Regions from separate parts of the Homo sapiens genome. Here region 1 is linked to region 2. The links come from fine-mapping of genetic effects on gene expression. A gene starts in region 2. The other region holds a variant in brackets. All regions are shown on one strand. Distances are between the middles of the regions. Region 1 holds the start of SULT1C2 (sulfotransferase family 1C member 2). Region 2 holds the start of LINC01593 (long intergenic non-protein coding RNA 1593).

Region 1 (5,381 bases), 240 kb after region 2:
TGAGTAGGAGAATATGAAAGAAAGGAGATAGTAGAAAGTGAGGGAGAAAAAGACTTGTTCCATCTTTCCCTGGGTGACTGGACAAGAATTAGACAAGAAAAGAGAAAGGGAGAATTAAAGCCAATGAGCATTGCAAAGTAAGAAAAATGGCTTGAGAGACATGTAATTATGTGAATTGCGGATGGTCAAAAACAGAAGGAAAAAAATTTAAACGACAAGGGAGCACAAGCCAGGAGAATGCTGAGCCAGTTTCCTGGATAATAAGCGAGATCCATGAAGTTACAAAGGAGTCAGAGTTTGCCCACCTAGTACCTCACCACCTGCAGGAAAGAGCTCATCTGCTCTCTTGTGGACTTGGTCAAAGGATCTGTGTGACTGAGGCAAGTGTTACAAAGCTTGCCTGAAGCAGTTGCAGCTGTAGGACATAGCACCCAGAAGGAATGGCTATGTCCCGGGGGGAGACCTTTGCTCCCGCTGCTCCTCAAAGCCAGCCTGCTGGAACACAGGCACCTTCCACTTTGTGCCAGTGGCACAAAGCAGCTTGGCTACTTTTCCCAATTGAAAACCATGATCAGATCCCTCACAAAACTCTTCCAGGAGGCAATAGTGACTTTGGTCTTTCTAGCGGGACAGAGGCTGCCGTGTAGACATTCCCCTAACTCCAAAGAAGGCACACTTTACCTGGTTCTCAGAAACAGCTCAGAAAGTTCCAGAGGTACATGAATCACAAATCAGGGAAAAATCCATGTGGATGGATTATGTATAAACCAGGGCAGGGACTAGGGTGAGGTAAGGGCATAGCATTGAAGGAGGCATTCATTCTCTTGCACGGCCCTGGAGCGAGTGTCTCCTTACATTTTGCACCTTAGTTCCCTCATTCAAGTCCCAGTCCCGGTGAAAACTAAAGTTTTTGTTTCATTCATTTGTTTATTCATTCAGTAAGTATATTAATCCAGTTGAATGGGTACATGGTACAGGTGGTCTTAGAGATAGGCCCCAATCGACACACTGGGAGGGTAGTTAATTTCCTCATTCAAGTAAAAACAGAAAATTGCTGTAAGAGAAGGCCAAATTAATCCTATGGACCACACATTGTATGATTCAATTTATATAAAATGTCCACAATAGACAAGTCTATAGAGACACAAAGTAGATTTTGGTTTCTTAAAGCTGGAGATGGTGGTAGGAGGAATTAGGCATGACTATTAATAAATATGGGGTTTCATTTTGGGGTGATGAAAATATTCCAAAATTGAGTGTGATGATGGTTGCACAACTAAAAACATTGAACTGTACACTTGGGTGAAGTGCACAGTATGTGAATTTGATCTCAATAAAACTTATTTTTAAAAAAGCATATGGTAGTTCACAGAGAGATTGCTTCCAGCTATAACCTAAGGAAAGGCTTCAAGGAAAAGATGGGTTCAAAGCTGAAGAATCTGACTCTATGGAAACAGAGTAAGAACATTTTTTTAGAGATGGGATCTCACTATGTTGCCCAGGCTGGACTCAAGTAACTGGGATTACAGGTGCACAGCAGTGTGCCAGGCTAAGAGTAAGAGCATTTTTGGCAGGGAGAAACAGGAGTAAACCAGGGAGGCAGGAAATTATAGGATGCATACAGGGGACAGTAAGTCATTCAGTTCACCTGGTGTGTGGGGCCCATGGTGGGGATGGTGTTATATTAAAGAAGGCCTTGAGCCAGGCATTCAGGAGGCTTGAAGTAGGAGGATCACTTGAGCTCAGGAGGTCAAGGCTGCAGTGAGCTATGATCATGCCTCTTCACTCCAGCCTGGGCAAAAGAGTGAGACCCTGTCTTATAAAAAATAAGAATTAATGAATTTAGAAGGTCTTGAATTCCAAGTGGAAGCACCCAGAATTTGAGCCATAAACAACCAAAGGATAGCCTGATCTGAGCTGAGCTTAATTTATATGCTGAAAGTATGAGAGACTAGTAGGGAAGAGACCAGAAATAAGGAGACTGCTAGAAGATTGTGCAACATCCCAGTTCATCCTCCACAAATGTGGAGGAAGCAGATACTAGCAGTGGTTACTAACTGTAAATTCTGGGATTGTAGAGACTGTGACCCATGCAGACAGCAAAGGCAGGGAGATGCAGCATGCAGCGCAGCATGGCACCGATACTGGCAGACACTTTAGTAGACTTAGGGACTTTAACTGCAGAGAAAATGTGAGGTTGCACTAAGAACTGTGAATCAGCCCTATGGGGCTGAAAATTGACAGCACTGGGATAAGTGGAACTGGAAAGAGAGCAGAAGTAGAAAAATAAAGTTCAGCCGGGCGCAGTGGCTTATGCCTGTAATCCCAGCACTTTGGGAGGTCAAGGCGGGCAGATCACCTGGGAGCAGGAGTTGGAGACTAGCCTGGCCAACATGGTGAGACCCCGTCTCTACTAAAAATACCAAAAAAAAATTAGCTGGGCATGGTGGCGCACGCCTGTAGTCCCAGCTACTCAGGAGGCTGAGACAGGAGAATCGCTTGAACCCGGGAGGCGGAGGTTGCAGTGAGCCAAGATTGCACCATTGCACTCCAGCCTGGGCAACAGGAGTGAAACACCATCTCAAAAAAAAAAAAAAAAAGAAAAAAGAAAGAAAAAGAAAGTTCAATTTATTGGGAAAAAAAGAGCCCTTTGGAAACAAGGAGGAAGAAGAAGTGTCGGCAAAGAAGCATTAGGAGGTTCAGGGTCAAAGAAGACAAGGAAAGCTTTGGCAAGAAGGGCAGATGGGGTGCAGAATTATGCTTCAATTCCAGAAAGGAAAGCACTGGGGTAGATACAAGGTTGGGGCTGGCAGAAGAGTAGCAGTTCAGAGATCATTAACACTTGATCCATTTAATTTCCCAGGTAACCAAAGACACCATGGAATATAATCTGCCTCCACTAAAGTGTACCTTTTGTACAATAAGGCAAAGAAAAAATAAGTACACACCTAAGCTCTAGACTTTTGTTCTATCCTCTCTGCATTTTCGGTGTGGATGAATACAACTTGGGAAGAAAGGAAAGAAGAACCAGCAGTTTTAAGCACTTACTATTTGCTCTGCAAAGTGTATTCATCAACATTGTTGCTTTCAATCTTAAAGCATGGATTGGAGACAGGCAGTATTACCCACACTTCATAGATGCAGAAATTAAATCTCAGGCTAAGGAGGAAGGAAAAGGGAGTTCACCAAATAAGCAGGAGCCTA[C/T]CTGAAGCCTGATGCATCTGGTCCTAGAGCCAACCTTCCATTTCCCCCCAGCCCCCACCTGTTTAAGCTTCGAGGCCAGTGGGAGGAGGGAGGGGCCAGGCAGCTGAGGGCCAGGAAAGATGTGAAAAACTCTAGCTGGTGACCGAGAGGAGGAGTAGAGTGTGCCCTTAGTTCATATGAACTAGAGGGAGTTGGTATTTGCACAGCAGTCAGGGTCACATGAGTGATCATGGTACAGTGAGAAGTTCTCCCTCCCAGGGCCAGGTCACAGGGTTTGTTTCTGTTCAATCCGGATTCTTCCAGTAAAAGCTTCAACTTCCCACACTGAAGCTGAGAGCCTCCCAAAGTGCTGGCTACCTGCTGAGCGCCCCCGTAACTCTGACACAGTAGTAATTTGAGCCTCTGCAATTGCCGTCTGCTTCCTGTGAAAGTCCTTTCCGTGCCCACTGACCCTTGAGTGGGCCTTTGAGCTGCTGACTTTCAGCTGGAACTTGAAGGTAAGAATATGGCTTAAAAGAAATTCTGTACCTAACTCGTTAATTTATTTTTTAACCTTTAGCCACATAGGTGTGGCTTTACAGATGCATTTATTCAAACCAGAAAAGATCCTAAGAATCTGATAAAATAATATAAAAGAGTTTTGTTAACAGCCTCCAGCCTAAAAATTCAGACCTAGAAATTCAGGACCCCCCTCAAATCACCTCCAAAAGCTCTCTCTCCTGTAATACTATCTCTGTCTCCCACCCTGATCTTTTCCCAAATACCCTCCCTGTCCCATCCTCCTCCAGGGCCAGCTCAACTTCTCTGGCCAAGACTATTTCTTCTTCCATGACAGCCCTCCTCTTATGCCAGCCATTGACTAAGACACATGCTGGGCCTGCAAGGGGACTGAACCAGATCCTGTGCTCCAAGGGTCCAGACTTATAAGCAAGTAATTGTAGGACGTGGAGTAAGACCTATAAAATTTGCACACAAAATACTATAGGATCCCATGGAAAGGAGTGATTACTTCTGTTTACAGAGTCAGGGATGCCTCCACAAAGGAGGCCATAGTGATCTGGCCTGATATGATGAAAATGTCCCTGCTGGCTGCTCAAGGGGAAATGTATGTGTCTACATGCCTGACTCTCCAAGGGCAGGAACCATGTGCTGATGTGGCCCAGCAATGAGGGGCCTGGGGAGGGTGAGAAGGACTTGGGACTTCTCCTGTGGGAACTGGCAGATCCCTCTGCTCCCACTGCACTACCCAGCTGCCTCAATCTCTTGCTGCATCTCCTTCTCCCAGCTTTAGCCAGGTTCTATCACTCCCCGTGCAGGCCTCCAACAAGAGCAATACAGTGGGATCCATAGTTCACTGGACAGCCAAGCCCTTAACCGCCCTGGTCCTCAGCAGCAGCAGGTGCCCTTCCACACATGTTCACAGCTGTGCCCAGGCCCTCGGTCATCAGCTACCTGCCCAGAGCACAACGCCTACCACAGAGTTGGTCAATGTGTTGCGTGGATTATTCTCAGGGCATTAGTTCAAGGCCAGAGCCCTAAGCTCACATGTACACCTGCCTACAGGTGTACATTGGGAAGTCCCATAAATACATCAGACTCAACCCCAGAATTGGACTCACCATCCCCTCACCCCCACCCTATGGAGGACCTTCTCACTGTGTCCTTACATGGTCTTTCCTCCATGTGCACACATCCCTGGTGTTGCCTTGTGTGTCCTAATCTCCTCTCATTACAAGGATACCAGATTGGAATAGGTCTCATCCTAGCAGCCTCATTTTAACTTAATCACCTATTTAAAGACATTATCTCCAAATACAGCCACATGCTAATATACTATGAATTAGGACTTCAACATATGAACTTAGAGAGACACAATTCAAACCACGATAATGTCCGTCTTAGTCCATTTTATGTTGCTATAACAAAATACCTGAGGCTGGGTAATTTATAAATATAAGAGGTTTATTTTGAATCATGATTCTGGTGGCTGAAAAGTCCAAGAGCATGGTGCTGGCATCTGCTCAGCTTCTCGTGAGGGCCATGCTGCATCAAGACATGGTGAAGAAATAGAAAGGCAAGCAGGCATGTATAAAGGGACCAAACTCACCCACTTCTGGGAGATGGCATTAATCTACTCATGTGGAATCCACCCTTATGGCCCAAACACCTCTCACAAG
Region 2 (5,381 bases):
GGATGCCAGCCTCCCTCAGGATGGCTTGCCATTTGCATTAAGTATTTATCACAGAGAGAAATAGTCATGGCCTGGCACAACACAAACGATGGATTTGGAGAAATCCAAGCAAGTCCCTGGGGATAGAGAAAAAGGAATGTGAGGCTTTTGCTTTCCTGAGATTTGATGGAATCTTTGAAAAGCTGCTCACCCTTTTCAGTTGGCATGACTACAAGTAGTCTACATTTGTTTATGTCAAGTTGTAAAATTTACCATGCCTATTTATATATACATTCAGTAGCCAGTCACGTAGTCAACAAATAGTTTTGTTCAGTGACTACACATATTAGACACAGCTTCAAGAAACTGCTCTGATATAATGTCCAATTCTAGTGGTAAGAACTAGTTGATAAATATCTCTGTGTTGGCATAACCTCAGGGAGAACCTTTCTGTCCCTTCCTAAGAAGATGATCTCTTAGACTGGCTCATTCCAAATGTGAAGCTGAGAATGCCTCCTGTGTGCCATTGCTCTGCATGCGGTTTACTGGAGTGGGGAGGAACACTTGGGGAATTCCAGAACAGAGCTGAATATAAAAGGAAAGGAAAATAGCACGTAAAAAAAAAACGCAAAAAAAAAAAATGAGAAGAGACAGAGCTTGAAAATGAGAAGGAAAGACACAAAAACAGGTAAAAAAAAAAAAAAAAAAAGCAAGAAATTGAAGCAACCCCCTCTAAACCCAGCAGCAACAGAGCACCCTGTGGCTGGTACCAGCAGTGACTCCATTCACCCTCAACTTTTGTTGGGTACATGTCACAGATTTCATTAATTCCTCCCAAAAAAGCAATGATAAATATGTAGGGTATATTTCATATGATAGAATGAAAATGCTTTCTTATGTTCCTTGAGGTGCTATTATACAGACACACCTTCTATCAAAAATATAAGTATGACATAGGTTTTGAAGCTGGCTATCTTCGCCTTGGAAGTGTCGCAACAGATCTACTTACTTACAATGAAGACAGTGCTTCTCACTGGAGTCTTTCAAAATCTCTCCAGAAACAATGATCTTAGGCTATGCTGTTTTATCGGGACTATTGTGAATGTATAAACTACTCATTGCTGGTAATGGTAAGCTGAATGGAAGCTATTGAGTAAGTAAATGTGTCTTCAGAGGTCCTTGTCAGCCTTTGAGAGAAAAAGGACACTCACTTATAAATGCAACAAATATTTATTATAGACCTCCCATATGTCAGGATCTGGCCTCAGTTCTGGAGATAGAGCAGTTGAATAAGAGGTCCCTGCACTAGTAAAATGCTAATCCTACATATTTATCATACTCCCTACCTCTCAGGAGGGACCCATCACCCATGGAAGTGACCTAGACATGTCAGGTTTCAATCCCAGTGTTCTAGGGACTCAATCTTGAAAACATAATTGGTTAGGCCTCTTCTTCTATCTCTGTCTCTTTCTTTTTATTCCACCAATGTCGTAAGGATGAACAGGGTGGCCAAAAGATCCTCCCCTCTCCTTGCGTCCACTCCAAGCACTGGTAAAAAACAAGGTCTATCTTGCTGATTTGAAGAGAAAATGATTCACTTCATTTTCTCCAGTGCCAGAAACTGTGGCAGAATCTCCTGTCCTCATTATGCATGGTGAGTTTCACAGTGGAGGAGGTAATAAGGGAAGTTCTGGTGACATTTTAATTAAGAGACCTAGAAATGCCTAAATCCTACTGTGATATCACTGCTCCCACCTTCCCATCTTCTCAAAGAGCAGTTATGCACAGAGGAAAACAGCCACAGTAAAGAAACCTTTTATATGTGGCTATGATATGGCTCTTCAACTTAATGTACAACTTTTGCACTAGAGGGACACAAGAATAGCTTCATTTTGCTATGCTAAAGAGGCTGAATGTCTTAGACCAAAGCTGGCCATGTTTCCCTGGGATCGGGTGGAGGTTCAGAGGACTTCCTTTCTTTGAAGGCATCACTACCAACTTCCCTGTCTGAAGCCCTCCTTAGTAAATTGTCCTGAGGCACAGTAACAATACCACCATAGCAAACAGACTCAATTACAGGCTGGGCAGTATTTAGCTGTACTCAAATTGCCTCAGCCTATGGCCTTGTCATTTCCATCATTATGGCCCCAAGACTTAGTTCTTATCTTCATCCTAAATCTTGATATTGCAGTACTATGCACTGGGTTCCCATGGTAGCCCGCAAGAAGTCTTTGTTGCCACATGTCCCTCCTGTAATCACTTAGATCCATGATCTCCCTCGGCTTTTGGCTGTCATCCCATGATGTTAAAGGCTTGTGTCCACCCCTCTCCTAGTATTTGGAGCCCAGTCCCCAAAAGTCTATCTAGTGATGAGATCCTTGTTCTCCAAAGCAGACGCCCTGAACATTGACTTGCAGCCCACAGGGCTCTCCACTTGCACACAGCCTCATGCCTCTACTTCTATGCTGCTGTTAGGGCCAGCTTGGAGCTCCAGGGCCAGCCATTGCCTCAAACAGGACCGTTTGGAATTGTACTAACACATTGGGCCTCTCCCACCTGGCTGAATCGCTGCCTCCATCGCAGACCACCATCCACCCCATCCTGTTCTGCTGGATGAGAGTTCCTGACTCCTCCCTTCTGTTCCATGTTGACATAAAACCATCATGCCTAAAATCTAAATTAATGGCACAAAAACCCACACTGTTCTTCCCTCCATGGGACTCTCTTCCCTTCCCAGATTCCTTAAACCTCACGCCTTCTCTTCTAATCAAGGTGTTTCTTCAAGAAAAGAACACGGGAGATGTGTCACTTCAACGTGGCAGTAAACTAACAGGGCTTCATCGTAAACCAGGTATTTGGAGCCCAGTCTACTGTGGATTCTCCACAGTGAAGGGTGAGCTCTCCTGGTTACAGGAGCATGGAACATTCAGAACATATGTGGGGGATGTTTGGGGACATAAGGGTTTCCATGTGTCCCTAACTCACCTTCAAGTAAGATGGAGACAGGCTTACAGGGATGCTACGCTGAGATTATTTTTCCCTGAAGAAGCCCCTCAGCTTTCCGTCTTCCTCAACCTGTCTTCTGTGTTGTGCAGAGGTAACCAGATCCTCGTCAGAGTGTCCAGAAGCTCCCTGCACACACAATGCAGAGTGTGAAGCCAGAGCCAGCCAGGCAGGGCACATTACAGTCTCCAACCTTGTAGAGACTCACGATTCCTTCTTAATCTCAGCATTCACAAACCCATAAATGAGAGCAATGGTACTTGCATTATCTGTTGAGAGAAAAACATATTGGCAAAAGTTACGAGATGCATATAAAAGTTCTATATAAAATGTTGAATTTGTTAATCATAACAAGCTATACACATATAGAAATAAATAGCTGTATGCGTGGGCAAGAAAAGCTGTCAGCCCAATCCATAAGTCACGTACAGTGTACACATGAGGGGTCCATATGCCTGGCTCTTACTCCACAGCCCTGAAAGTTTCTTGTTCTGAAGGTATGTGCCACTGGGTCTGTGTTATTAGATTGTGCATAATTTCCCACTAATAGTAGGAGACTTCCTGGTCTGTCCCAAGATGTTTGGCATCACAAGCACAACCTGAGCCCCATTTACCAGTTACAGACAGGAAGTTTGGGGCATGGGGAGGGATTCATTCCTCCCAGTCTTGGATCCATGTCCCTGCTAACAACAGTGGAGGGGCGGGGGTAGATGAAAAGTCTTCAGTGAAGAAGAGATCGCTTCTCTTCTCAGAGCAAAGCCAAGGAACAGTAGGCTCTGTGCTTAGTTCATTGACATATCTTCAACATTTATTTGGTCTGAATTACTAGGAAATACTGACCCTCATCCAGAAAGTGATAACCAAATTGGTAACCTTTCAAATGAGCAGCATTTTCTCTTCCTTTGGCCACTCAGTGACCTATTCTATTAAATGGAGATTAGCAATTTCTTCTCTCAAAGATGTAGTACCAAAACTACATGGAGAAGATAGAAACATATTTTCACACTTCTCCTTTATCCATAAGGGAAAAAGAAGTTATCCCTAAAAGTCATTTCTTTTCCCTTGGTGAGGCAGCCGCTGGTATTTCTATTATCCCTTGTTGGTGTTTGGATCAACTGTCCTCTACATCAATTTATGCTCTTAGTAAGTCTTCAATGAATCATCAGAATCAAGGCTTGTCTAAGGCAACATATTTCAAAGATAGAAAAAGTTTCCAAAGATTTATACATCTACTTCTGAGAAAGAAATATAAATTAAGCCTTCAATTTCCTTCCTGAAGCTCATGAATAAAATCTACTTTCTGGGTAAGTTCTATGAATAAGACTTCCTCAGGGCCTAAATATACTGTTGTTTATTAATTTCATTTTCCTGCCAAGAAAGTATTTTTTCCAAAGAGGCAGTGAGTCTAATTATTGCCAAGAATGATCACAACCCAAGTTTAGAAATTACGGAGTTGAACAATATGCACCTTAATTCTCTACTTTCTTGAAATAAATGCATTCTGCATTCTTTTGGTGCTTATTGAGAATCAGTTGTGTGTCAGGTCTTGTTAGCAATGAAAATAGGAAGGTGAAAAAGACACAGTCCCTTTAAGTTCTGGGAAAGCACAGTGTGCAAGGGAAGCACTGGAGAAGTAACTGGTCCAATCTTGGGGAGACGGAAGAAAGCTTCCATCACTGAGGGCAAGGGACACCTCAATGAGACTTAAGGAAGAGTAGAAGTCATGGGACAATCTAGACCAGTGCTCCTCAAAGCAAGTACCATGCATGGGTGTCAATTCATAAACTGCCTGTTATCGTAACAAGATAAGTATAAAATTGAGAGTAGGCATTAAGAAGCTTTTAGAGCAATTGGACAAATATCCAAATGTGATCAGCAGACTTCTATTTTATGTTTTTATATTTGTTTGTTTCTAATAACTATTTTCAATTGTATTTTATAAAAAGATGTAGTCTACAATGGATTGGGAATTTAGAAAAAGAAAAACTGGCACTTTCTCATCCAGGATTTGAGAAGCAGTGATCTTGTGTGTGGCTAGGGAGGGCTGGGAAGAGGGCACAGAGCAACAGATTCTAAAGCTTGCCTCTGAGGCTGGAAAGACAGGCATGTTCTGGGAACTGCAGTTCCTCCCAAAGCATCATCTCCTAAAATACATTCTCTCCTTCCTACAGCTCACAAGCAATCCTTTCTCTGATCATGGTAATTCTTAACATTGTACATGCTCTCTATGTGTCTGGCACTCCATTAAGCACTTTATCTGTGTGATCTAATTGTTATAACCAGATGACAAGGTAAATGCTCTTATTTTTCTTATTTTGTAAATGAGAGAAGTAAGATTTGGCAAGGTAAAACAACTTACCTAGGTTACATCCAGAATCCCAACCCAAGAATCTCTGTCT

What was found.
Region 1: its variant is fine-mapped to the expression of LINC01593 in kidney cortex (GTEx, PIP above 0.99). The same link has a PIP of 0.9 or more in stomach.

The regions. Positions count from the first base shown.
Region 1 is chr2:108,285,370-108,290,750 of GRCh38, forward strand. SULT1C2 (sulfotransferase family 1C member 2) reads left to right here and starts at 3,526. Exons shown (of 8, transcript NM_001056.4): 1 at 3,526-3,701. The variant C/T (reference allele first, on the strand shown) is at 3,205.
Region 2 is chr2:108,049,670-108,055,050 of GRCh38, forward strand. It overlaps LINC01593 (long intergenic non-protein coding RNA 1593), which reads right to left and starts at 3,086. Exons shown (of 3, transcript NR_135071.1): 1 at 2,965-3,086; 2 at 1-116.